Linked DNA regions of Homo sapiens: region 2 is linked to region 1. The links come from fine-mapping of genetic effects on gene expression. A gene starts in region 1. The other region holds a variant in brackets. All regions are shown on one strand. Distances are between the middles of the regions. Region 1 holds the start of PIK3CD (phosphatidylinositol-4,5-bisphosphate 3-kinase catalytic subunit delta). Region 2 holds the start of LOC105376712 (a long non-coding RNA gene).

Region 1 (11,981 bases):
ACCATGTCCTGGGGTAAGAGGTGGGAACAGAGCAGTGTCTGTGTCACCATCTGAGCCCTCCCCCCACCTCTGCCCAACAGATGAAATTTCAAAATGTGAGGGGCTGTGTGACCTCAGAGAGAGAGAGAGTAGCCCTGGGCTGGGAATGGGCTGCGGAGGGCAGGGACTGTTGTTGAAGATAAAGAGGGAGGAGTTTGTTGGGGAGGGAAAGTAAGAGAAGCATTTCTCCTCCTGAGCTCCAGAAGTTTTCTGCTCCTGGGACCCCAGGAGGTTGGGGGTGAGGTGGGGACTGCCAGTTCATAAAAGTTGGGGAACGGAAAGCAGGAAGGAGGCTGGGGTCAATGGTCCAGCAGAGACCACCAGGGACTCTGACATCTTTGCCTAAAGTCACCCAGGGGAAAGTGGCAGAACAGGGCGGCTTCCCTGCAAAGATAACCGCACTTCCCACCGTCCCCAGAAAATACAGAAAGACATTCCTGTTTATCTGTAAGCGGGCTGATTGGTGGCCCCCACAAAGATAGGTCTTAACCCCCAGGACCTGGACATTATCTGGAAAAATAATAATGTGGAAAATGGGTCTTTGCAGATGTAAGTAAGTTAAGGATCTTGAAATGATTTCTATCTGAATTATCTGAGGGAGCCCTAAATCCAACAAGAAGTGTCCTTAAAAGAGACAGACGGAGACCCAGACACACGGAGGAGATGCCCTTGTGAAGACGGAGGCAGAGACTGGAGTGATGCAGCCACAGGCCAAGATACGCTGGAGCCCCCAGAAGGAAGAGCAAAGCAGGATTCTCCCCCTACAGCCCCCAGAGGGAGCGAGGCCTTGCTGATGCCTTAATTTTTAACTTCTGGCCTCCAGAACTGTGAGAGAATACATTTTTTTTTTTTTTTTTTTTTGAGATGGAGTCTCGCTCTGTCACCCAGGCTGGAGTGCAGTGGCACAATCTCAGCTCACTACAACCTCTGCCTCCTGGGTTCAAGTAATTCTCCTGTCTCAGCCTCCCGAATAGCTGGGACTACAGGCACGTGCCACCACGCCTGGCTAATTTTTGAATTTTTAGTAGAGACGGGGCTTCACCATGTTGGCCAGGCTGGTCTTGAACTCCTGACCTCAGGTGATCCACCCGCCTCAGCCTCCCAAAGTGCTGGGATTACAGGCGTGAGCTATCACACCCGGCCCATTGCTGTTGTTTTCTTTTAGTGACAGGATCTCGCAATGTTGCCCAAGTTGTAGTGCCATGGCTACTCACAGGCTCAATCATGGCTCACTGCAGCCTCAAACTCCTGGGCACAAGTGATCCTCCCACCTCAGCCTCCCAAGTAGCTGAAACTATAAGCATGCACGTTTCTGTTTTAAGCCACAAAGTTTGAGGTCATTTGTTACAGCAACCACAGGAGGTTAACACTGGTTGAGCATCCCAAATCTGAAATCTACAACGTTCCAAAATCCAAAATTTTTGAGTGCCATCATGATCAAATACAAAGCTCCTTGGAGCATTTCAGATGTCAGATATTTGGATTTGGAATGGTCAGTTGGTAAGCATATAATGCAAATATTCCAAAATCCAAACTCCACCCCATTTCTGGTCCCAAGCATTTTGGATAAGGGATACTTAACCCGTACAGCATCCCTCCAGGACCAAAAATCCCAAATAGGTCTATCCCTTTCTGCATCTCCTCCTCCCCCACCCTACTCCTGGCACCGCCCACTCTTCCGGCATTTTCTCTAAGTGGAAGCAATTTCCCCCAATATGAGTGAAACAGAAGCCAACCGAAATACCACTTTGGAAATGCCACACCCTTCACTCTGATCACTCCCCCTGTGCTCAGAATGTAATAGGAAGGCCGCGCATGGTGGCTCACGCCTTTAATCCTAGCGCTCTGGGAGGCCAAGGTGGGCAGATCACCTAAGGTCAGGAGTTCGAGACCAGCCTGGCCAACATGGCAAAACACCGTCACTGCTAAAAATACTAAAAATAGCTGGCCATAGTGGCGCACATCTGTAATTCCAGCTACTCAGGAGGCTGAGGTGGGAGAATCGCTTGAACCTGGAGGCAGAGGTTGCAGTGGGCCGAGATCACACCATTGCACTCCAGCCTGGGCGACAAAGCGAGACTCCGTCTCAAAAAAAAAAAAAAAAAAGAAGAAAAAAGAAAGAAAGTAATAGGAAAAGGGACCCATTTCCAGGAGCCCTGACCCTTATCCGAGGTGGTAAGGTTGTGACTTCTGGGGAGGGAGGGGAGTTTCACGCATATCCAGCCAGTGCAGCTGGAAGGGGAACTTTCACAGGCCCTAGGGACTGTGCTGGCCCTCAGGGAGGGGAGAATGGCCGTTATTTTGGTAGGACCCACAGCAAGTCACAGTGTTTAGCTGCAATAAAAAAGGGGGGGGGGCGGGGGGTTCCTGGGTTTTTTATTTTTTCCATCTTGAAACTGGCAGCATTTCTGCTATGATTGCCGGGGATTTCCACCAACCAAACTAAAGACAACTCAGTCTTAGCGTTAACTGTAGGGAGAGAGGTGGCGTTTTGCCACCTTCGCTATTTATGAAACACTGTCACCGGTACCAAGATGACAATATTTTCCTCCCTTTCAAACAAGCCAGGCTCTGCCATCCTCCAGTGGATAGGGCCCTTCCTTGTCTCCTCCATCCCGGGGTACTGCTTCTAGACCATCTTCTCTAACAGCTTTGCTGAAAAACACACTTGTCCCCTGGGGAGTAGCTGAAGCCACCCTCCTGGCTGAAAGAGCTTTTTTTTCTTTTTTTTTTTTTTGAAATGTAGTCTCACTCTGTTGCCCAGGCTGGAGTGCAGTGGCACAATCTCAGCACACTGCAACCTCCACCTCCCGGATTGAAGCGATTCTCCTGCCTCCACCTCCCAAGTAGCTGGGATTACAGGTGCTCATCACCACGCCCAGCTAATTTTTTTTTTTTGCATTTTTCGTAGAGACAGATATTCACCATGTTGGCCAAGATGGTCTTGAACTCCTGACCTCAAGTGATCCGCCCACCTCGGCCTCCCAAAGTGCTGGAATTACAGGCGTGAGCCACCGCGCCCAGCCTGAAAGAGCCTTCTGAAGGTCCCACGTTAAGGAAACATTTGCTGGGGCCCCAAACCCCACCATCAGGCCCACACCGGCAGCTGGCCTCAGGGAGGGCGGGAACTGCTCTCTACACAAAAATGGTTTTGAAAATAACCCAGCCAAAGGGGAATTGCTTCATCCGTTGCACATTCACTTCTCCCTTTCACTGTGCAATTTAAGTAAAACAAGATGAAGCAGGAACCGACTCTCACCATCCCCACTCCCACCTCCATGAATTCCATCGGACAGTTGTGCGAAAGCGGGCTGGCTTTCGCACAACCATTGGTGGACTGTCTGTCCTGTAAGCCCCCCAGGGGCTGATGCCCTCCCAGTCTGCCTGCCCTGTTCTTAGCACAGCCCCTGGCACCCCGTGTGATCTCAGGAAACACTTGCTAAACATGGTATCGGAGGAGAAACGGAGCCCACAGCTTAGTGCAAAGACCTGGCGGCGTGGACTGAGGCTGCAGAAACGCAGAAACGCGCTTTTCCTGCCAGAAGGGGACATCTGCGTGGTCGGGAGTACCTCTGGGGCACGTGCCCTAATTCCAGAAACATCTAAGTGAGTAGTGTGGCCAATGTAGTCTGTTTCTGAACAGGGGCTGAAGGGCGGGGGAAGTGGGGCTCAGAAGGAGGCTAGCTTAGTTGTCTCTGGAGCAGGCAACTGGGTTGTTGTATTATGTTTCTCAGAGATGGGCTCTTGCTCTGTCACCCAGGCTGGAGCGCAGTGGCACTGTAATAGCTTACTGCAACCTTGAACTCCTGGCTTCAAGTGATCCTCCCGTCTGGGCCTCCCAAAGCACTGGGATGACAGGTATGAGCTACCGCTCTCAGCCACAACTGGGTTTTAAGAGCACTCCTCCAGCCCACTCCAGTGTCTTCCATCATTCTGTGAAAGCACCAAAAGAGGACCAAGCCCAGGAAGCCGCCAGCAGGCCTCTCACCAGCCAAGATGGCTGGAATCCTAATATCAAGAAATGAAACTCCAGCAGGCCATGGAAATGCTAAGGGGTTGGCATTTCTGCTCTAGAGAGAGCCAAAGAGAAAGCTCTATTTATATCTCCTTGCGTTTGGTCGCAGCCTCATCAACCAAAAGAACCTTCCGCCCCACTCAACACATCAATCAAATTGGGGAGGGGGTGTGAACAGCAGCAGCGGGTGTTACAGAGGAGTCTCAAGGGTATCTTAGAGGGTGCCTCTCTGAACAGTCGTCCCCTCCAAATCCCCCCCAAGAGAATTACTAGGACATTCTCCTTCCCCCGCAAGCAACGGCACCCCCAGATGATTAAACGCGCTGGCGTCGGAAAGAGCTGGGATCCTGGAGAAACTACTTGTAAACTGTGTGGGTTGGTGAGTTATTTAACTTTTCTGAGCCTTCGTTTCCTTAACTGTAAAATGAAGACAACACCACTCAGCTCCTACAGTTGTCCAGCTGAAATCACCTAGGTAAGAACGACCAGTTCTTTGGGGAGTAATGTCCCGATGGTACCATTCAATTGTCAAGAACACCAAGGCACCGTCAGGCACCCGGGCGGTATCCCACTCTCCTGGAAGAGAGCAGGGGGTTAGCCCTTGGTTTCAAAGTCCCTAGGGAGCAGTAAACCTTCCCCTCCGAGAGCCCTGAGAGAGGAATAATTGCCCCTTCCCACTCCAACCCACGGCACACCCGCCCACATCCACGTGCGGCTGTGCCCAGCATCTCAGAGGTAGGACTTCTCAGGAATCGGCGGGAAGAAGCCCCCTTGATGGAGTCTGGTGGGGTTCAAGATCTGCAGGTCCCACCTTCCAGGGAACACCTGCACAAGTGAGACCTGCCCGATCAGCCCCGCGCTCCATCCGCAAACTGGGCAGATCCCAAGGGTGCCACGCGAGGACCCTGCACCTTGGCCGCTCCAGGGCGCCCCCCACCCGCGACCCCGGAAATCTCGCCCCTACCTGCTTCACCCTCGCCCCACCCACAGCGCACTTTTCGGGACCTCCCAGCGGCCCTTCCCCGGTTCTCTGGACCCCCGTCTCCCCGCCCTGCAACGCCCCCATCCTGGTGCCCACGAAAGGTCGTCCCAGTTCCCCTCTTCTCTACCTCAAAGGAGGAGGTGCAAATGAGGAAGCCTAAATAAAAACAGGAAACTCGATTTTTTTAAAAAGCCTCATTCAGGCTGAATTACGGGTAAGAGTATTTTTTTAAAAAGTCCGGAAATGCAAAGCTGGGGGCGGTTTTGCCGGCGTAACCCCGGCTCGGCCGCAGATCCGGAGCTGATCTCGCCTGCGCCGCTGCAGCAAACGCGGCGAGCAACGCGGGAGGCCCGGGACTGGGAGGCGGGGCGCGGGTCCACGAGCCGGGAGGAAGCCCCGAAAACTTCCACCCCGGCCCCTCTGCAGCCCCGCTCCCCACTTGCCCAGGCTGGGAAGGGCGCACAGGACCCGGGCGCCGGCGAACTGTGCGCAGCCCTCTCTCCGCGCCAGGGCACTCGGGCGACATCACCAGCGCGCTCTCTGTGGACCCCGCTGCCGTACAGAGGAGGCCCCTGGTCCTCTAGTCAGCGCTCGGAGCGGGCGCACGCGCTGAGCGCTTCCAGTATCCTCGCGCCTCAGCCGGCGCACCGGAGGCCGCACCGCCGCTGTGAGCGCAGCTGAAACCCCGCTGCCGGGCCAGGCGGGCAAGGCGCGCAGTGCAGGCGCCGGGGAGCTGCGCACGCCCCTCTCGGCGGGCCCACGGGGGACGGCCCCGGGCCTCTAGGGCAGCCCCCGCCCAGGTCCCAGCAGCCCGGCCCCCGGGGCTCCCAGGACCCGGCTCGCTAGACTCGGGGAGGCGCCCAGGGCCAGGGCGCACGGGCTGTGTGTGCCGGAGAGACGCCCGCCAGCCAGCCCCGCGCCCCCGAGCGCAGCCGCAGCTCCCAAAGCCCCTGGCCGCGGTCCTCTTCCCACCTCCCCTGACGCAGCCAGCGGCGATCGCTTACCGTCCCGGCGCAGCTGGCAGGGCTGGGCGGCTCTGCTCGCGGCCGCTCGGAGCGACTGCGCTGGGCGCGAGTGAGCCTCGAGGGAGGGAGGCGGGGCGCGCCGGGGCGCCCCGCCTGCCGCCAACCCGCACACTCCACTTCCCACTTTGTTTCCTTTTCACTTGCAACAGGAAAAACAACAGGTCCTCCAGGGCCTCGCCTTCCCCCGCCGCCCACACTCCCCAGTTCGCCTACCGCTAGAGGGGCATCATCCCAGGTGCCTCTGGAAGCTGCACCTTGCTTGCCCTTCTACAAAACAAGTTTTCTTTTTATGCAAAGGAAAACAACGAAATAAAGGTCCTAGGCGCCTTTAAGCGCTCCGCCTTCACGCAGGAAAGAATTTCAGCAGGAGCGGGAGAAAGGCTGAGAGCAGGAGAAGAAGAGGGGGTAACCTGCAGCTCTAGGCACCCAGGGACCCCAAGCGCCATTGCGAGGTGACCAGTGTTGGGGCTCAGGACACACACCCAAAATGTGACTATGGGAGACCAGCGTGTGCCACCCCAAAATATACTTCTTCGCCATATTTTGAAGGGATTATTCTTAGAAACTGCAGGCACAGGAGTAGATCTGAAAAGCTGTCCTTTTGTAAAATGATTTCTATCTATAAAGAAAATCTCCAGGCCTGGCACTGTGGCTCACTCCTGCAATCCCAGCAATTTGGGAGGCCGAGGCGGGAGGATCACTTGAGCCCAGGAATTCAAGCCAGCCTGGGCAACATAGGGAAACCCCCGTCTCTACAAAAAAATTAAAAATTAGCCAGTCGTGGTGGTGCACACCTTGTAGTCCCAGCTACTCGGGAGGCTGAGGTGGGAGGATGGCTTGAGCCAGGGAAATGGAGGCTGCAGTGATCCATGATGGCACCACTGCACTCCAGCCTGGGAAACAAAGTGAGACCCTGTCTCAAAAACAGAAAAGAAAAGGAAAATCTCCATTGGTAAAGTATTAGTATCAGGCGGAGGGCTGCTCAGAGCTAACTTTTCTTACCTGAGAAATTTTATCCGCATAAGAAGACAAGCTTCATTCACCTTACCCTCTCTCCCCTCACTCTCCCTTAACTTGTGTACCACCTCCCCAGGATCCCAAGCCTCTATTCCTTTTTTTCTTTTCTTTTCTTTCTTTTTCTTTTTTCTTTTCTTTTTTTTGAGACAGTCTTGCTCTGTTGTCCAGGCTGGAATGCAGTGGTGCCATCTCGGCTCACTGCAATCTCTGCATCCTGGGTTCAAGCAATTCTCCTACCTCAGCCTCCCAAGTAGCTGGGATTACAGGCACACGCCACGACACCCAGCTGATTTTCATGTTTTTTTGTTTGTTTTTTGTTGTTTTGTTTCTTTGTTTTGTTTATTTTGAGGAATCTTGTTCTGTTGCCCAGGCTGGAGTGCAGTGGCGTGATCTTGGCTCACCACAGCCTCAGCCTCCTGGGTTCAAGCAATTCTCCTGCCTCAGCCTCCTGAGTAGCTGGGACTATAGGTGCACACCACCGTGCCTGGCTAATTTTTGTATTTTTAGTAGAGGTGGGGTTTCGCCATGTTCACCAGGCTGGTCTTGAACTCCTGACCTCATGATCCACCCGCCTCAGGCTCCCAAAGTGCTGGGATTACAGGCGTGAACCACCACACCTGACCCAAGCCCTATTCCTTTCTGAAGGAATGTTTCCTGTCCCTTGTAGGATGTTATATGAGCTTTATTCATCTGAGCCTTCATCCAGTCTTGTATTTTGTGGGATTCCCATGCATAGGTCTTAGTTACACATGGTTTTTCTCTTGTTAATCTGCCTTATGTAAATTTAATGTGGAGCCCAGCCAAGGAATTTAGAGGGTAGAGGGAGGCCACTCTCTCCTCCCCTACAGCAGGCATGACTGAGAGGCTCGGGGAGACAGCCCAGGGCCTAAGTCCCTCCTTGCTCAGCCCTGGGTTGACAGCAGCGACCTCCAGGCTTTGGTGGACCAAGAGTATGGGGGTGGTGGGTGAGCCCACCCCTGAGATTACAACAGTGGCTTCATGCCCTCCCAGGATAGGGTGAAGGGTGAGCCAGTCAATTGCTTAGTGAAACAATGGCTTAAAGGACCCTCTTCAATCCAGCCTGGGAAGTAAAGCAGCTGTTATTGGTCCCTTGGACAGATGAGGGATCTGAGGCTTAGAGAAGGACTTTTTCTACCCAAGAGATGCCTGGGCCTCTCAGGACCACCTTGGGCCCCGTGCTGGCTCCAGAGGCTGCAATAAGCAGAGGCCCAGGCCAGGCATGATGGCTCAGGCCTGTAGTCCCAGCACTTTGGGAGGACGAGGCTGGAGGATCCCTTGAGGCCAGGAGTTTGAGACCAGCCTGGGTGATATGGCAAAACCCAGTCTCTACAAAAAAATAGAAAAAATTAGCCGGGTTTAGTGGTGTGCACCTGTAGTTCCAGATTCTCGGGAGGCTGAGGTGGGAGGATCACCTGAGCCCTGGAGGTTGAGACTGCAGTGAGCCATAACTGTGCCACTGCACTCCAGCCTGGGTGATGGAGTGAGATTCTGCTTTGAAAAAAAAAGAAAAAGAGCGAGAGAGAGGCCCAGAGGCCGTTATTCCAGCCAGGAAAGGGGAGAGGGCTTGGGTAAGATGGAGTGGCTTGCTCAATTGTTCCAGTTTTTTTTGTTTTTGCTTTTTTTGTTTGTTTGTTTGTTTGTTGAGACAGGGTCTTGCTCTGTCACCCAGGCTGGAGTGCAGTGGCATGATCTTGGCTCACTGCCACCTTGGCCTCCCGGGTTCAAGCGACTCTCATGCCTCAGCCTCCCAAGTAGCTGGGACTGCAGATGCGTGCCACCATGGCTGGTTAATTTTTGTATTTTTTAGTAGAGACGAGGTTTCACCATGTTGGCCAGGCTGGTCTCACACTCAGGCCTCGGGTGATCTGCCCGCCTCAGCCTCCCAAAGTGCTGGGATTACAGGCATAAGCCACTGCGCCCGGCCTGGTCCAGGTTTTCTAAGATGCAGGCTGCAGATTCTGTGTTCTCCAGTGGACACTTGCAGAGGAGCCAGGAAGGACCACAGGTCCCTTTTGGAAGGAACGTTGGGCCTGTCCCCAGGAATGCACACTAGTATATCCTTTCTAGTGGAGTGTCTGAGGCTCACAGCCTCTTGCTTACCCCAGGCTCAGATTACTGAGCCTTAGCAGCGGTCTCTAGCCTGTTTCAAGGATGCCAAGAGCCAGAAGACAAATGGACGTTTCAGAAGGAACTCTGACGGCCGAGTGAGCAGCCTGTCCTGAGGGAGCGGCCCGTCCTAAGGTTTCCTAACACCTGGCCTTAACCATGCTTTTGCTAGGCTGCACTTTCAACGCTGCCCTCTGGTCTTTAGAGTTTGTTTCAAGAAACAGCCAGATGACGAATGGTTTTGCATCTTCCAAAGGAATTCTTCATTGAATATGTATTTGCTGACAGCAATTCAAATCATGCTTTTTACTATGCAAGATGCTGCCGGGAGAATGGAGGCATGCCAAGTTGTCAAGCGCTAAGATGTGCCTTACATATTGTTCTCTTTGATCCCCATGAAGGAAACCAGAATATGTCCCCCCAAAATATACCTCTTTGACGTAAATATTTTTGAACTTAAGGCAATTAAGAAGCAGCAGGCAGATGAAGAGATCTTTCTATCATCTCCCCTTTTCTGCCTGTTAAATAAAATTTGCAGGAGGCCATTGATTGGGACAAGACCCCTGTACCGGGTCCAACAGACCAAACCAATATGGAGTCATTCATGGTAAATGAAACTAATTAACTTAAGAGTATATACATGTAGCAAATAGCTGAGTTTTTGTCAGTTATAGCAGCTGAGCTTTAGTAGATCTTAGGTGGCCAACTGATTCAAACAAAGCAAACACTGTAACCAATTAAGCTCTATAGCTTACTTCTGTTTTACATCCATAAACACTCTGACTGTGTTACTGGCTGAAGCCCTTTGAACCTGTCCTGGTTCTGAGGGACTCCCAATTTTAGACTCATTAGTAGGCCAGGATGACTCACACCTGGAATTCCAACACTTTGGGAGGCTGGGGCTAGAGGATCAAGACCAGCCTGAGCAACATAGTGAGACCTCATCTTTACAAAAAATAAAACATTAGCCAGGCATGGTGGCATGTGCCTGTAGTTTTAGCTACTTGGGAGGCTGAGGTAGAAGGAGGATCCCTTGAGCCCAGAAATTCAAGGTTGCAGTGAGCTGTGATCTCACCTCTGCAATCCAGCCTGGGTGACAAAGTGAGACCACGTCTCTAATAATAATAATAATAATAATAATAATAATAATAATAATTAGAATCATGAATAAAAGTTAAGATCTGTAAACTAGATTTGTTGTAATCTTAACTTTTAAAAGATGATTATTGTTTTATTATTATTTTGAGACAGGGTCTCACTCTGTCACTCAGGCTGGAGTGCGGTGGTGCAGTCTCAACTCACTGCAACCTCTGTCTCCCAGGCCCAAGTGACCCTCCCATCTCAGCCTGCCAAGTAGTTGGGACTACAGGCATGGGCTAATTTTTTTGTAGAGACAGGGTTTTGTCATGTCACCCAGTCTGGTCTCAAACTCCTGGACTCAAGCAATCTGCCAGCCTCAGCCTCCCAAAGTGTTGGGATTACAGCTGTGAACCATCCTGCCCTGCCAGTCTTGACTTTTTTTTTTTTAGACAGAGTCTCACTTTTGTAACCAAGGCTGGAGTGCAATGACACGATCTCGGCTCACTGCAACCTTCACTTCCCATCTTCAAGCAATTCTCCCACCTCAGCCTCCCAAGTAGTTGGGACTACAGGCGCCCGCCACCATGCCCAGCTAATTTTTTTTTTTTTTTTTGAGATGGAGTCTCCCAGGCTGGGGTGCAGTGGTGCGATCTTGGTTCACTGCAACCTCCGCCTCCCTGGTTCAAGCGATTCTCCTGCCTCAGTCTTCTGAGTAGCTGGGACTAAAGGCGTGAGCCACCAAGCCCGGCCCTAATTTTTGTATTTTTAGTAGAGATAGGGTTTCACCATGTTGGCCAGGCTGGTCTCCAACTCCTGACCTCAGGTGATCCGCCCGCCTCGGCCTCCCAAAGTGCTGGGACCACAGGCGTGAGCCACCACACCTGGCTCAGTCTTGACTTTTTACATGCCTAAATACAGGACATAAATTCTACTTTACTGGAGACAACGCTTATCAGCTCGGAGACACCAGAAGAGTCTACAAACAAACCTTCCTCCATTCCTTTTCTCCCATATGTTTACCTTCCCACAGTTCCCCACCTCTGGAAGCCTAAAACTGCTTTCCCTTGTCTTGTCACTTCTTGAAAATTCATTCTTCTTTGTCAAAGATTCTGGGTAAGCCAGAGTTCTGAGCCACTGCTTCGGGTCACCTTTCATTGAGGTTTCTGCCTCGTGATGTGCACTGCATCTGTTAATAAACTTGCTTGGTTTTCACGTGAATCTGTCTTTTGTTACGGCGGGCTGTCCCAACTATGAACTTACCGGGGCTGAGGAGAAGTTATATTTTCTCCCTGATACGTACAACCGCCCAGCAAGGTAAATCTTATCCCCAATTTACGGATGAGAAAACTGAGGCTCAGGAAAGTTGAGTCCTTTTTCAGGGCCACACAGTCTATAAATATCTATTATAATAACTTCTTCCAGATCCTTGCTACTTTCACCATGCCATGGGTCTCGTTAGGCCTCTGTCCTAAGAAGTTTCACTTTCGGCCAGGTGCGGTGGCTCCCGCCTGTAATCCCAGCACTTTGGGAGGCTGAGGTGGGCGGATCACCTGAGGCCAGGAGTTTGAGACCAGCCTGGCCAACGTGACAAAACCCCATCTCTACTAAAAATAAAAATAAAAATAAAAAAATAAAAAATAAAAAATAAAAATACGGCCAGGCACAGTGTCATGCCTGTAATCCCAGCACTCTGGGA
Region 2 (11,981 bases), 21 kb after region 1:
AAGGCATGGTACATCCACTCAATGGAAGAGCAAGCAGCCACTGAAAATGACAATTCTGAAGACCCACAGCATCATGGGAACTGATGGTGTCTTCCGCTGAAAAAACGCAATGCAAAGCCTGGTGAGGTGGCTCATGCCTGTAATCCCAGCACTTTGGGAGGCCAAGGTGGGTGGATCATTTGAGGCCAGGAGTTCAAGACCAGCCTGGCCAACATGGTGAAACCCTGTCTCTACTAAAAATACAAAAATTATCCAGGTATGGTAGTGGGCACCTGTAATCCCAGCTACTGGGGAGGCTGAGGCATGAGAATTGCTTAAACCCAGGAGGTGGAGGCTGAAGTGAGCCAAGATTGCACTGCTGCACTCCAGCCTGGGCAACAGAGTGAGACCATGTCCCCCCCCAAAAAAATGCAGAATTGTTTGTACCTGGGTCACAACTGTGTGTGACATACACACATGGGCACAGTGGGAGGGGACTTAGAACAATGGAAGCTGAGAGAGAGGTGGGGCTTCAAATGTTTTATCTCCATTTTTGTCTGTCTGCTCACATTTTGCTAACAGTGTAATAAAAATACATAAATGTAAGATTAAAAAGCTGGGTATTTATTTATTTACTTCCTTTCCCAAGTCAGAGCGAATCCCTCTTGCTGCTCATACCAGGACCTTGGATGGGCAAGTGTTTCATCTGTCTGGGCTCCAGGCCCTATTTGTGGCAGCCAGATGCTCACATGTCTGCCTGCTCCATCAGTAACAGGGGCAGCCCCGTACAGGGATGGGAACCCATCAGAAGGACTCCTTTAGGAATGCACTTGGCATGGGAGAAGTCTGTCAGTGGACAGCAGAGCCTCAACCAGTTGCAGCTGTAATCCAGGCAATTGCAAGATGGCAAGAGCACAGTGCTATGGCAATGGATGCCCAGCTCCGGCTCTAGGAGATCCCCCACGCATCCACATGGCTACACCAGCAGTCTCCAGTCAGGTGTGACTGCCCAGCATGCCCTTGACCCTATCCAAGTTGATAAGACCAGGGGTATCACCTGACCCAAGGCGAGCCAATCAGTGATTTCCCTGGGAATATGGAATTGGAATCAAGGGAATAGAGTTAGTGTTCTTTAGACACCTGGAGCGTGGGTGGTCTAACATGGAGCCAGCGAGCTGCAGGGCCTCTTTTGCCCTCAAAAGGACTAAAGAAATCAGAGGAGCGGATATGCAGAGGAAGAGAGAGTGGGGGAGAATCATGCAGCAGATGCACAGAGAGGAAGAGAGGGACACAGATGAGAAAGAAAATTCTCATCTTTTCAGCTCCTGGTTCCTGTAGCTTTTTTTTTTTTTTTCAGGATGGAGTCTTGCTATGTTGCCCAGGCTGGAGTACAGTGGTGAGATCTTGGCTTACTGCAACCTCCACCTTCCAGGTTCAAGCGATTCTCCTGCCTCAGTCTCCTGAGTAACTGGGATTACAGGAGTGCACCACCACGCCTGGCTAAGAGAGGGGGTTTCACTATGCTGGCCAGGCTGGTCTCATACTCCTGACCTCAGGTGACCCACCCGTCTTGGCCTCCCAAAGTGTTGGGATTACAGGCGTGAGCCACCTCGTCTGGTGTAAATTTCCCTCTTCCTATAAGGACACCCAAGTTCAATGTGACCTCATCTCAACTAACTACATCTGCAAAGACCTTATTTCCAATTAAGATCACATTCTGAGTTTCTGGGTAAGCACAAATTTTGGGGAGACAATAGTCAGCTCAGTATAAACTCTCTTGAGTTGGATATTGTTATTCAAAACAAAAAAATCCCAAATAATACACATATTGGTGTCAGAAGTGGGGTGTTAAGTTTCAAGTTACTTTCAAAGAAAGTATGAAACTAGCTGACTCGAGGCAGAGTGAGGGGCAATGAGGTTTTCCTATTTTTGGATGGGACACTGGCAGTTCTTGTTTTGTGTTAACAGATGAGTTAAACTATTTTCAGTGACCTCATGGGACTCAAAGGCTGAAGTGTTAAGAAACTTGGAGGCTGGACGCAGTGGCTCATGCCTGTAATCCCAGCACTTTGGGAGGCCAAGGCGGGCAGATCACTTGAACTCAGGAGTTTGAGACCAGCCTGGGCAACATGGCGAGGCCCCATCTCTACAAAAAATACAAAAATTAGGGCCAGGCATGGAAGCTCACGCCTGTAATCCCAGCACTTTGGGAGGGCGAGGCTGGTGGATCACATGAGGTAAGGAGTTCAAGACCAGCCTAGCCAACATGGTGAAACCCCGTGTCTACTAAAAATACAAAAATTAGCCAGGCCTGCTGATGCACGCCTGTAATCCCAGCTACTCAGGAGGCTGAGGCAGAATCTGAGGAGAATCGCTTGAACCTGGAAGGCGGAGGTTGTAGTGAGCTGAGATCATGTCACTGCACTCCAGTCTGAGTGACAGAGTGAGACTTTGTCTCAAAAAAAAAAAAAAAAAAAAAACAACCCAAAAATTAACCAGGTGTGGTGGCACACACCTGTGGTCCCAGTTACTCAGGAAACTGAGGAGGGAGGATTACCTGAGCCCTGGAGTAGAAGTTGCAGTGAGCCGAGATCACGCCACTGCACTCTAGCCTGGGCAACAGAGCAAGGCCCTGTCTAAAAAAAAGAAAAAAAGGAAAAGTCTGTGAGCCTAGTAACTGGAATGGGAATATCTGGAAAGAGCCACAGGAGCACACAACCCTTAACCTCCTGGGATTACAGGTCTCTGGTCCCTCTTAAGAACTTCCTCTTCCCAGACAAACATGATGGTATCTCCTATTGTCCAGTGGTAGAAGGGCAGGCAGAGGTAGCATTCCAAGAGAAATTAGAGAAAAAAAACCTTCTTTCTATCCCAAGCCAGACGATGATTTCCTCTTTTCACTCTTAGGCTGAAAGAAGAAATTAGCCCTCACATTTGCTGCTAAGAAACCCAAACCTCGGGGACATGACCTATGACCTAGTCTAAGGCTGAATGTTCAACCGCATAAGATTTCATGACATTAGCTGGGCCCGATGGCTCACGCCTGTAATCCCAGTACTTTGGGAGGCTGAGGCAGGTGGATGGCCTGAGGTCAGGAGTTTGAGACCAGCCTGGCCAAAATAGTGAAACCCCGTCTCTACTAAAAATACAAAAAATTAGCTGGGCGTGGTGGTGAGCACCTGTAATCCCAGCTACTAGGGAGGCTGAGGCAGGAGAATCACTTGAACCCAGGAAGCAGAGCTTGCAGTGAGCCGAGACTGCGCCATCGCACTCCAGCCTGGGCGACAAGAGCGACATTGATTATTGGTAAATGGCATGATCCCAAATAAAAGTTACAGGCAACCAACTAGCGTTTTACGAGAGTTGAAAACCAGGAAACCACGCCTGACAAATTGGGGTTTGTGATCTCTCATCCCCACCTGGAGAATTCCTAAGCCAAAGTACCAGCACCAACAAGAATCAGGTTGCTGATCAGGCACGGTGGCTCACGCCTGTAATCCCAGCACTATGGGAGGCCGAGGCGGGCGGATCACGAGGTCAGGAGATGGAGACCATCCTGGCTAACATGGTGAAACCTCGTCTCTACTAAAAATACAAAAAATTAGCCGGGTGTGGTTGCAGGCACCTGTAGTCTCAGCTACTCAGGTGGCTGAGGCAGGAGAATGGCCTGAACCCTGGAGACGGAGCTTGCAGTGAGCCGAGATGGCACCACTGCACTCCAGCCTGGGCAACAGAGCGAGACTCTGTCTCAAAAAAAAAAAAAAAAAAGAATCAGGTTGCTAAGGTAATTATATCACCTCCTAGAAGCCGCCTTCCCAAGAAACTCTCAAGGGTGGGTCTGAGAGGCTCTAGACTAGAAGGGATCTAGAGATTCCTTCTCAATGGGCAGAACTTGGGGTAGTCACATTTGTCAACAAAGGGGCCAAGGAAGGTAGCCACAGAGCAAACCCCAAGTGATACCTTGTTCCTAATGTTCAATTGACCCAACCCACCTGGAATGCTGCAGCGCGTGCTTTGTATATTGCATCCACATTTTTGCTCTATAGATCAAGTATGGTAGGAGAGGTTAAATTGATCTGTTCCTCTGTTGAGAGGATCCTGGAGAGCCACCAGGGAAGAGATTCAGCAGAAACAGAGGGCAGCTGGGCATGACGGCACATGGCCGCAGTCCCAGTTACTTGGGAGGCTGAGGTGGGAGGATCGCTTGAGCCCAGGAGTTTGAGGCTGTAGTGCATTATCCTTGCACCTGTGAATAGCCACTGCACTCCAACCTGGCAACATAGTTGAGACCCTCTGTCTTTAAAAAAAAGAAAGAAGAAGCCAGGTGCGGTGGCTCACGCCTGCAATCCCAGCACTTTAGGAGGCAGAGGCAGGTAGATCACCTGAGGTCGGGAGTTTGAGACCAGCCTGACCAACATGGAGAAACCCCATCTCTACTAAAAATACAAAATTAGCTGGGCGTGGTGGCGCATGCCTGTAATCCTAGCTACTCAGGAGGCCGAGGCAGGAGAATTGCTTGAACCCAGGAGGCGGAGGTTGCAGTGAGCTGAGATCGCACCATTGCACTCTAGCCTGGGCAACAAGAGCAAAATTCCATCTCAAAAAAACAAAAATAAAAAAAAGAAAGATAGAAGAAGGAAGGAAGGGAGGGAGGGAGGGAGGGAAGAAGGATGGATATCAGATGAAGATGGCAGCTCTGAGAATAGAGCCCTGGATGCAACAGTTTAACATGGTGAGATGGCTTGGATCACCTCATTTGACGGGGGAGAGGTATTTGAGATTGACTTTGAGGTGTGGCAGGACGAGGTAAAGCAAGGACAACTGGAATGAGGATATCTGGGAAAAGCCAAAGGAGCTGGGCAAGGGCCTCTGTGCTGGGCAGGACCAGAATGGAATGAACTAGAATGGACACCACTGGCCTTTAGGCCATTAGGCCGACCTGCCCCCCTCCCTTTTTTTTCTGAGTTGGAGTCTTGCTCTGTCACCCAGGCTGTCACCCAGGCTGGAGTGCAGTGGCGCCATCTCAGCTCACTGCAACCACCGCATCCAGGGTTCAAACGATTCTCCTGCCTCAGCCTCCTGAGTAGCTGGGATTACAGGCATCTGCCACCATGCCCAGATAATTTTTTGTATTTTTAGTAGAGACGGGGTTTCACCATGTTGTCCAGGCTGGTCTTGAACTCCTGGCCTCAAGTGATCTGCCTGCCTTGGCCTCCCAAAATGCTGGGATTACTGGCATGAGCCACTGCACCCGGCCAGTCTGACCCCCTTTTGGTAATCCTTTGTCATGTACCCATGAGGACAGATGCTTAGCGTTCACACTTGACCACTAGCCAGCTGAACGGACTGGAAGGGAGGCCTGGATCCAACACAGGCTAATCAAGTCCTTCCCAGGGAGGTGGGCTTGGGACCACACATAGTTCTCTTTGGGTGAAGGGATCCAGGATGTAGCAGCTTGACAGGTGTGATGCAGACGGGCAGATGGGGGCAGACAGGTGAGTGGCACTGAGAAGTGTCCCTGGGCTGTCTGCAACTCTGGGTCTGATAAGAGCACCCTGCATCTCTGCTGTAAAGTCAGTCCCCTTTCCTGCTTGAGCGAAAGGGAGCTGGTTTCTGAGCTTAGGCTGGGGCATGAACTCTGTCCCGGTGTGCAGGGTGAGGCTATAGCTTGAGAACAAATGGATGACCAATCATCTGAATGGAGCCAACCCAGCCAGCCTCCCAGGGTCACCTCCCATCACTTCCCCCTCTCTGCCCTCCCTGCTGGGCCAGGAGCCGGGACTTGTAGCTCCAGAACATCCCAGGCTTGCTGTCTGACTCTGGACGTTTGCACATGCTGTTCCCTTTACCTGGAGTGCCCTTCCCCACACTTCCTTCTGCCCTCTTCTGCACACACACACACACACACACACACACACACACTCACTTTCTTTGCTAACTACTCAGTAGAATTCGGGCCCAGCACAGATGTTACCTGCCTTGGCCCCCTTGCCCGAAGGGGCCCTTCATCATACTCCTGGCTATATCATCCCCTCCCAGCTCTTGGTCTACTCAACCATGATTGCCTATTCGCTCAGCTGCTCCTGGGAGCAGGGACTCTACATGGATCTGGACAGGCTCCTGGGCTGCTCCCCTGTGTCTGGCACCCAGAGGGCATCACCAGTGAGTCTGTAGAAATGCTGAATGAAGGAATACATGAGTGATGTGGTCATGAAGGGACAAGGTGATGCTTTGCCCAGGGGCCAGGGGGCTGTAGCCGAGGAAGAGAAAGGACAAGTGTCCACATCCTAGCCAGTGCAGGAACAGCCCCTTCACACCCTTCAAGGAGGGGCCTGACACCGAGTGACCCTGCAGTCCATGATCCAAGGCCTGACGGCCTCCGGGGGGTAGGGAGGCTAGACTCACCTGTCAGAGTGGTCCCTCTGCCCCTGGTATCACCAGACAGACGTGGGTCCAGCCTGGATCAGTCCAATCCCGGAGGCATTCTCAAGCCTAGGGAAAAATGCTGTTTTCAGAGTGAGGACCGCACTGAGGACTCCTCTGCTCCC[C/G]CCGTGGGCCAGCCCCCAGTCTCCCTAGCATCCTCAGCTACTCTGAGCTGGAGAGTGCAGAGTGCAAAGCACACTCCTCTCCCAACCTCGTGGTGTCCTGGGCGCCTCTGACCCCCGGGCTTCCTTCCCAGGCAGGCCTCCGCCTCCGCCCCCACTCCCCCCTCACCCCATGAAAGAGTAATGGCGCAAAATTCGTTGGGGAGAAAAACAGGAAGTGGAGAGCGAGGGTGCAGAAGTGCTCCCCAGCCCGTGCACCGCAGCCTTACGGGGAAGTGCTCAGGGGCGGTCCCGGCCCGACTGCAGGGGTGGGGGAGCCTTAGGGCGAGCTGGGAGTCCGGCGAGTACCCTGTGGCGAGGGGCTTTGTTTTAGACCGAACTTCACACCTGCACCCTGCCTCTGACATCTTAGCTCACCTTCTCCCAGCAGCTCCCCAAGGTTGAGACCATGACCCCATTTTACAGACAGGCAAGTGCGCTCAGAGAAGTGAAGTGACCTGGCCAAGGTCACACAGCCTTTCCCACGGCAGGGTCGTGGCTCCTCGATTCTTTCTCAGGCTTTGATTTCTATTTGTGGTATGTTTTTGTTCTAGGCCTCTGAGCGTGGTGGGTGGGGGCGGGGGTGGGGGGGCAGGGAGTGCTGTTTCTGGCTTCTCAGCACATCCTCATTCTCGGCTGGTGGTAAGAAAGGGGAGAGGGTCAGCTGCTGAGGACCGTCCTCCCCTGGGGGTTCCTGGAATGTGTGAGCTGGGAGGACAGGTGCCCCGGCCTCTTTCTCGGAGAAGAGGAGAAGGAGCCTGGGGGGAAGGCACCCCAGTGACAACCGCAGAGGGAGGGCACCAACCCCCAACACAAACTCAGGTAGGTGTGGCCTTGAAGCCCCAGGACTCAGAGCTTCAAGTGAGTTCAGACTCACCCTTTCCTCCCGGGGCCGCAACTCACAGCAGCCCCAGTCCTTAGAGGCGTCAGTGGCCCGAGACCCCCAGGGGAAGAGGTGACCTCAGGTGGCCTCACTGGGGTGACAGTGGGGAGAGAACCCGCTGAAAATACTCCCCACCCAGGCCCGCCCCTCACTTGGGTCATGAAGCCCCCTCGCCCTGCCTGCCCCAGGGCAGACCACAGACGGCAAACGGGGGCTTCTGGGGACCTTCCCATGGAGTTCCCACCGCCCAACCTTTTCCTTCCGAGGGTCCTGGGGGATCTGAGTCCTCGGGATCACCCTTACTGCCCAGTGTCTCCCTAGTCTTGACCGCAGCTCGTCTGTCCTTCACCACCCACTCCTCCTTCACCACCCACTCCTCCACCCTGGCCACCAGCTCTTCCCCTCCAGCTGCCTCTGGAAATCCCCCCAACATTCCACAGAGCCCTCAAACTCAACACACCTCCAACCAATCTCACCAGGGCCACCAACTCTGGGCCACCTCCGTGTGAGGAAGGCAAAGAAGGCAGTCTGCCCGGTCACTGAGGCTGAAACCTCAGAGCTGAGCTGTGGCCTCCACTCACCCACCACTGGCCCATCCTCCCTCCACGGCAGGGGCGCCTTTCCCAGAAGGCTCTGGCGTTGCTTAGACCACAGCGGAGGCCGGTGCTCAACTTTTAGAATTGCTGTTGGAAATAAATAATTCATATATGTAAAAATGCTTATAATCGTGCCTGACACAGAGTGAACCCCCATAAAATGTGAGTGTTTGAGCTATCCTTCTAGTATATTCTAGAATGGCATCTTTGGGCTTTGTGAGACTGGATGTTTCTGCGCTAAGAGTATTTTTCTTTCTTTCTTTTTGAGATGGAGTCTCACTCTGTCACCCAGGCTGGAGCGCAGTGGCACAATCTTGGCTCACTGCAACCTCCGCCTCCCAGATTCAAGCGATTTTCCTGCCTCAACCTCCCGAGTAGCTGGGGTTACAGGAATGCGCCACCACGCCCAGCTAATTTTTGTATTTTCGTAGAGACAGGGTTTCACCATGTTGGCCAGGCTGGTCTCAAACTGGTGACCTCAGGTGATCCACTGGCCTCAGCCTCCCAAAGTGCTGGGACTACAGGCGTCTCGCTCTGTCGCCCAGGCTGGATCGCAGTGACGCGATCTCAGCTCACTGCAGCCTCAACCCCCTGGCTCCTGCGGGAGGTGCCATCTGCCTCCATGGTTCCTCCATTGTTCTCAGATCAACAGTGGGGCTCTGCCACCCGCGGCCTCTGTTCCCTGTAGCCGTGGGCTGCGGGGCTGCGGAACTAGAAACAAGAGGCCCCCTGGCCTTTAGCATCGAAGGCCCCTCCTCTCTCTACTGCCTTTGGGCAGCAGTCATCCCTCAGCACCAACAGCACCCGGGGCCAGCAGGGAAGGTGGCCGCGATAAGGGAGGCCTGGCCGCCCTTCCCTTTGTGCAGGAGACTCAGCCCCTGGTCCTCAGCCACCCCAACATCACAGGGAACTAGAATCATAAGTTAATATCTGTAAAGTGCCCAGAACCATGCCAGACCTGGATGAGAACTCAGTACACATGTTATCATCATCATCATCACCACTGTCACCTAATTTAATCCTTACAGCCGCCCTGTGAGATCAGCGTCATGCTCCCACTGACGGGCGCGAAGTCTGAGGTGGAGAGAGGCGAGGCCCACGCCTTCGTGCAGGCAGCTGCGCAGGGATTCAAACCCCAGCCTGTTGGATGCTCGTGCTCTCAGCCTCGTGCACGGGTTTCCATCTCCGCGGGTGTGAAGCCAGCTGTGGAGGTGCACACCTCTGTGCTGCCGCCACCCCTGCAGGAGGCAAAGAGGCCGCCACGGAGCCCGGGTGCCCGGAGCCTTAGGTCGCCCAGCCGGCGTCTCCCCCGGGCATCCGCTCCCCGACCTCGCGGCCTCCGGGTTGGGCGCCAGGGAAGCGCGCGGCGCCACCTGGTGGTGATGCCTGGCCAAGGCCACAGCCGCCTGCAACCCTCAGCCCCTGGCTCAGCGGCTCCCCCTGCTGCCCGCCCGGCGGCGCCGCGTGGTTTCCGCCGCACTCTCGGGACTGGGAAAGCGGAATTCACTTTCTCTCCTGCCCGCTTCCTCCAGGGATGGAGAAATGAGCGTAAACCCTGGCGCTGCTGGGGTCCTGGGGCAGGTACTGAGTCAGCAAAGCTCATTTTGTTGAAACTGTGTTTTGTGTCCCTCCAAACCTCCCATTTCTTTTTTTTTTTTTTTTTGAGACGGAGTCTCTCTCCGTCGCCCAGGCTGGAGTGCAATGCTGCGATCTCGGCTCACTGCAACGTCCACCTCCTGGGTTCAAGAGATCCTCCTGCCTCAGCCTCCTGAGTAGCTGGGATTACAGGCGTGCGCCACCACACCCAGCTAATTGTATTTTTAGCAGAGACGGGGTTTCACCATGTTGGCCAGGCTGGTCTTGAACTCCTGACCTCAGGTGATCCGCCCACGCCTCGTCCTCCCAAAGTGCTGAGATTACAGGCGTGAGCCACCGCGCCTGGCCTCCTTTCTTAATTCCTGCATTGCAAGTGGCAGATTGTTCTAGAGCTGCTTGCCGCAGCCTTGGTACTGGCAGCTCAGCCTGGAGCTCACCCTCCCTTCCTCCCTGCCCAGCTCTGCGACCCTGTGCCCCGGACCCCCTCTCCAGCAGCCTTGGGGGCGTCCCCACCCAGGCACTTGCAGGCCCCTGCAAACGGAATCTGCCCCAACCCGACTCCCTGGCCACCCGGATCTGCCCCTGGCTCACTCTTCCTTTCTGCTTCAGCGAAAGCTTATCCCCTCTCTCCTCTGTGGTCAAAGCAGAAATCCCCAACAGGGTTCACTTCTCTCTCTTGCCCGCAGCCTCATGCAGGTGTTGCCAAGTCTTGCTGTCTGAGATGGTCAAGGGATAGGGGCTACAAGTTACACCCATTCATTCTGCACTTTATCAAATGCCACCAGTATGCCCTGAGGATACAGCAGTGACCAAGTCCCTGCCCTGGAGGATCTTCTAGTGGGTGGGTGGGCGCGGCTGATGATACAGAAACAAACAAGTACATTCCTAACATCTTGCACAGTGGTAAGTGCTAGGGAGAAGAGTAAAGTGGGGTAGGGCCCTTGGTCACCAGTGCCATGTCCCAGGTGCCGCCTCACCCCACTCGGGCTCCCACACCCCACCAATTGCCTTTCTCACTCCACTCTGACTCCCTGAGAGGACTCCCTCCTCTCCACCCCTGCCAGGCTCTGATACCTCCCAGCAGGTCGCCCTCCTGGGTGACTTCCACCCTCACCTGGCTGGAGGTCTGATGGGCACACCTGGCCACCCAGGGGGGCCGCTCCATGGCTTGTAACTCCCCCAGTGCCTTTTGGACTGAATTTCCAAGGAAGGGAAGGAAAGAAATGAAAGGCAAAGAGGGAGAGCTGTCCCTCAACTTGATATTATATCTTGAAAAATCTGCCGGGCGTGGTGGCTCATGCCTGTCATCCCAGCACTTTGGGAGGCAAAGGTGGGCAGACTGCCCGAGATCAGGAGTTTGAGACCAGCCTGGCCAACATGGTGAAACCCTGTCTCTACTAAAAATGCAAAAATTAGCCGGGTGTGGGGGCGCATGCCTGTAATCCCAGCTTCTTGGGAGGCTGAGGCAGGAGAATCGCTTGAACCCAGAAGGCGGAGGTTTCAGTGAGCCAAGATCATACCACCACACTCCAGCCTGGGTGACAGAGCGAAACTCCATCTCAAAAAAAAAAAAAAAAAAAAAAAAGAAAAAAAAGTTTGTGGCCTGGCACACTGGCTCAGGCCTGTAATCCCTGCGCTTTGGAAGGCTTAGGTGGGAGGATCGCTTGAGGCCAAGAGTTTGAGACCAGTCTGGGCAACATAGCAAGACCCTGTCTCTACAAAAGATTTTAAAAACTATCTGGGTGTGGTGGTGCACACCTGTGGTCCTAGCTACTTAGGAGGCTGAGGCAGGAGGATTGCTTGAGCCCAGGAGTTTGAGGCAGTGAGCTGATTGTGCCATTGCACTTCAGCCTGGGCAACAGAGTAAGACCCTGTCTCTAAAATAAATAAAAAGAGAAAAATCTCAAACTCTCAAAAAAAAACAAAACAAAACCCAACAAACAAACAAAAAAAACAAAATACAATGAAGACATATACCCTAAAGAAAGGTATCTCCAGCCTGGCGCGGTGGCTCACGCCTGTAATCCCAGCACTTTGGGAGGCCGAGGCGGGTGGATCACGAGGTCAGGAGATTGAGACCATCCTGGCTAACAAGGTGAAACCTCGTCTCTACTAAAAATACAAAAAAAAAAAAAAAAAAAAAAATTAGCGGGGCATGGTGGCGGGTGCCTGTAGTCCCAGGCACCTACTCCTACTCAGGAGGCTGAGGCAGGAGAATGTCGTGAACCTGGGAGGCGGAGCTTGCAGTGAGCCCAGATGGCGCCATTGCACCCCAGCCTGGGCGACAGAGCGAGACTCCTTCTCAAAAAAAAAAAAAAAAAAAGGTGTCTCCAGATGGGAGGG

The links. PIP is the estimated chance that this variant, and not a neighbour inherited with it, causes the effect.
Region 2: its variant is fine-mapped to the expression of PIK3CD in whole blood (TOPMed, PIP above 0.99).

Annotation. Positions count from the first base shown.
Region 1 is chr1:9,645,862-9,657,842 of GRCh38, reverse strand. It overlaps PIK3CD (phosphatidylinositol-4,5-bisphosphate 3-kinase catalytic subunit delta), which reads right to left and starts at 6,112. Exons shown (of 24, transcript NM_005026.5): 1 at 6,041-6,112. It overlaps PIK3CD-AS1 (PIK3CD antisense RNA 1), which reads left to right and starts at 3,257. Exons shown (of 2, transcript NR_027045.1): 1 at 3,257-3,645; 2 at 3,800-5,233. RefSeq lists enhancers at 3,870-3,919, 5,060-5,129 and a silencer at 5,310-6,199.
Region 2 is chr1:9,624,628-9,636,608 of GRCh38, reverse strand. LOC105376712 (a long non-coding RNA gene) reads left to right here and starts at 7,182. Exons shown (of 2, transcript XR_946951.2): 1 at 7,182-7,385; 2 at 7,926-8,162. It also overlaps a transcript of PIK3CD not described here. RefSeq lists enhancers at 5,944-6,003, 6,034-6,083, 8,647-9,111, 10,299-10,438 and silencers at 6,584-6,693, 9,219-9,558. The variant C/G (reference allele first, on the strand shown) is at 6,528.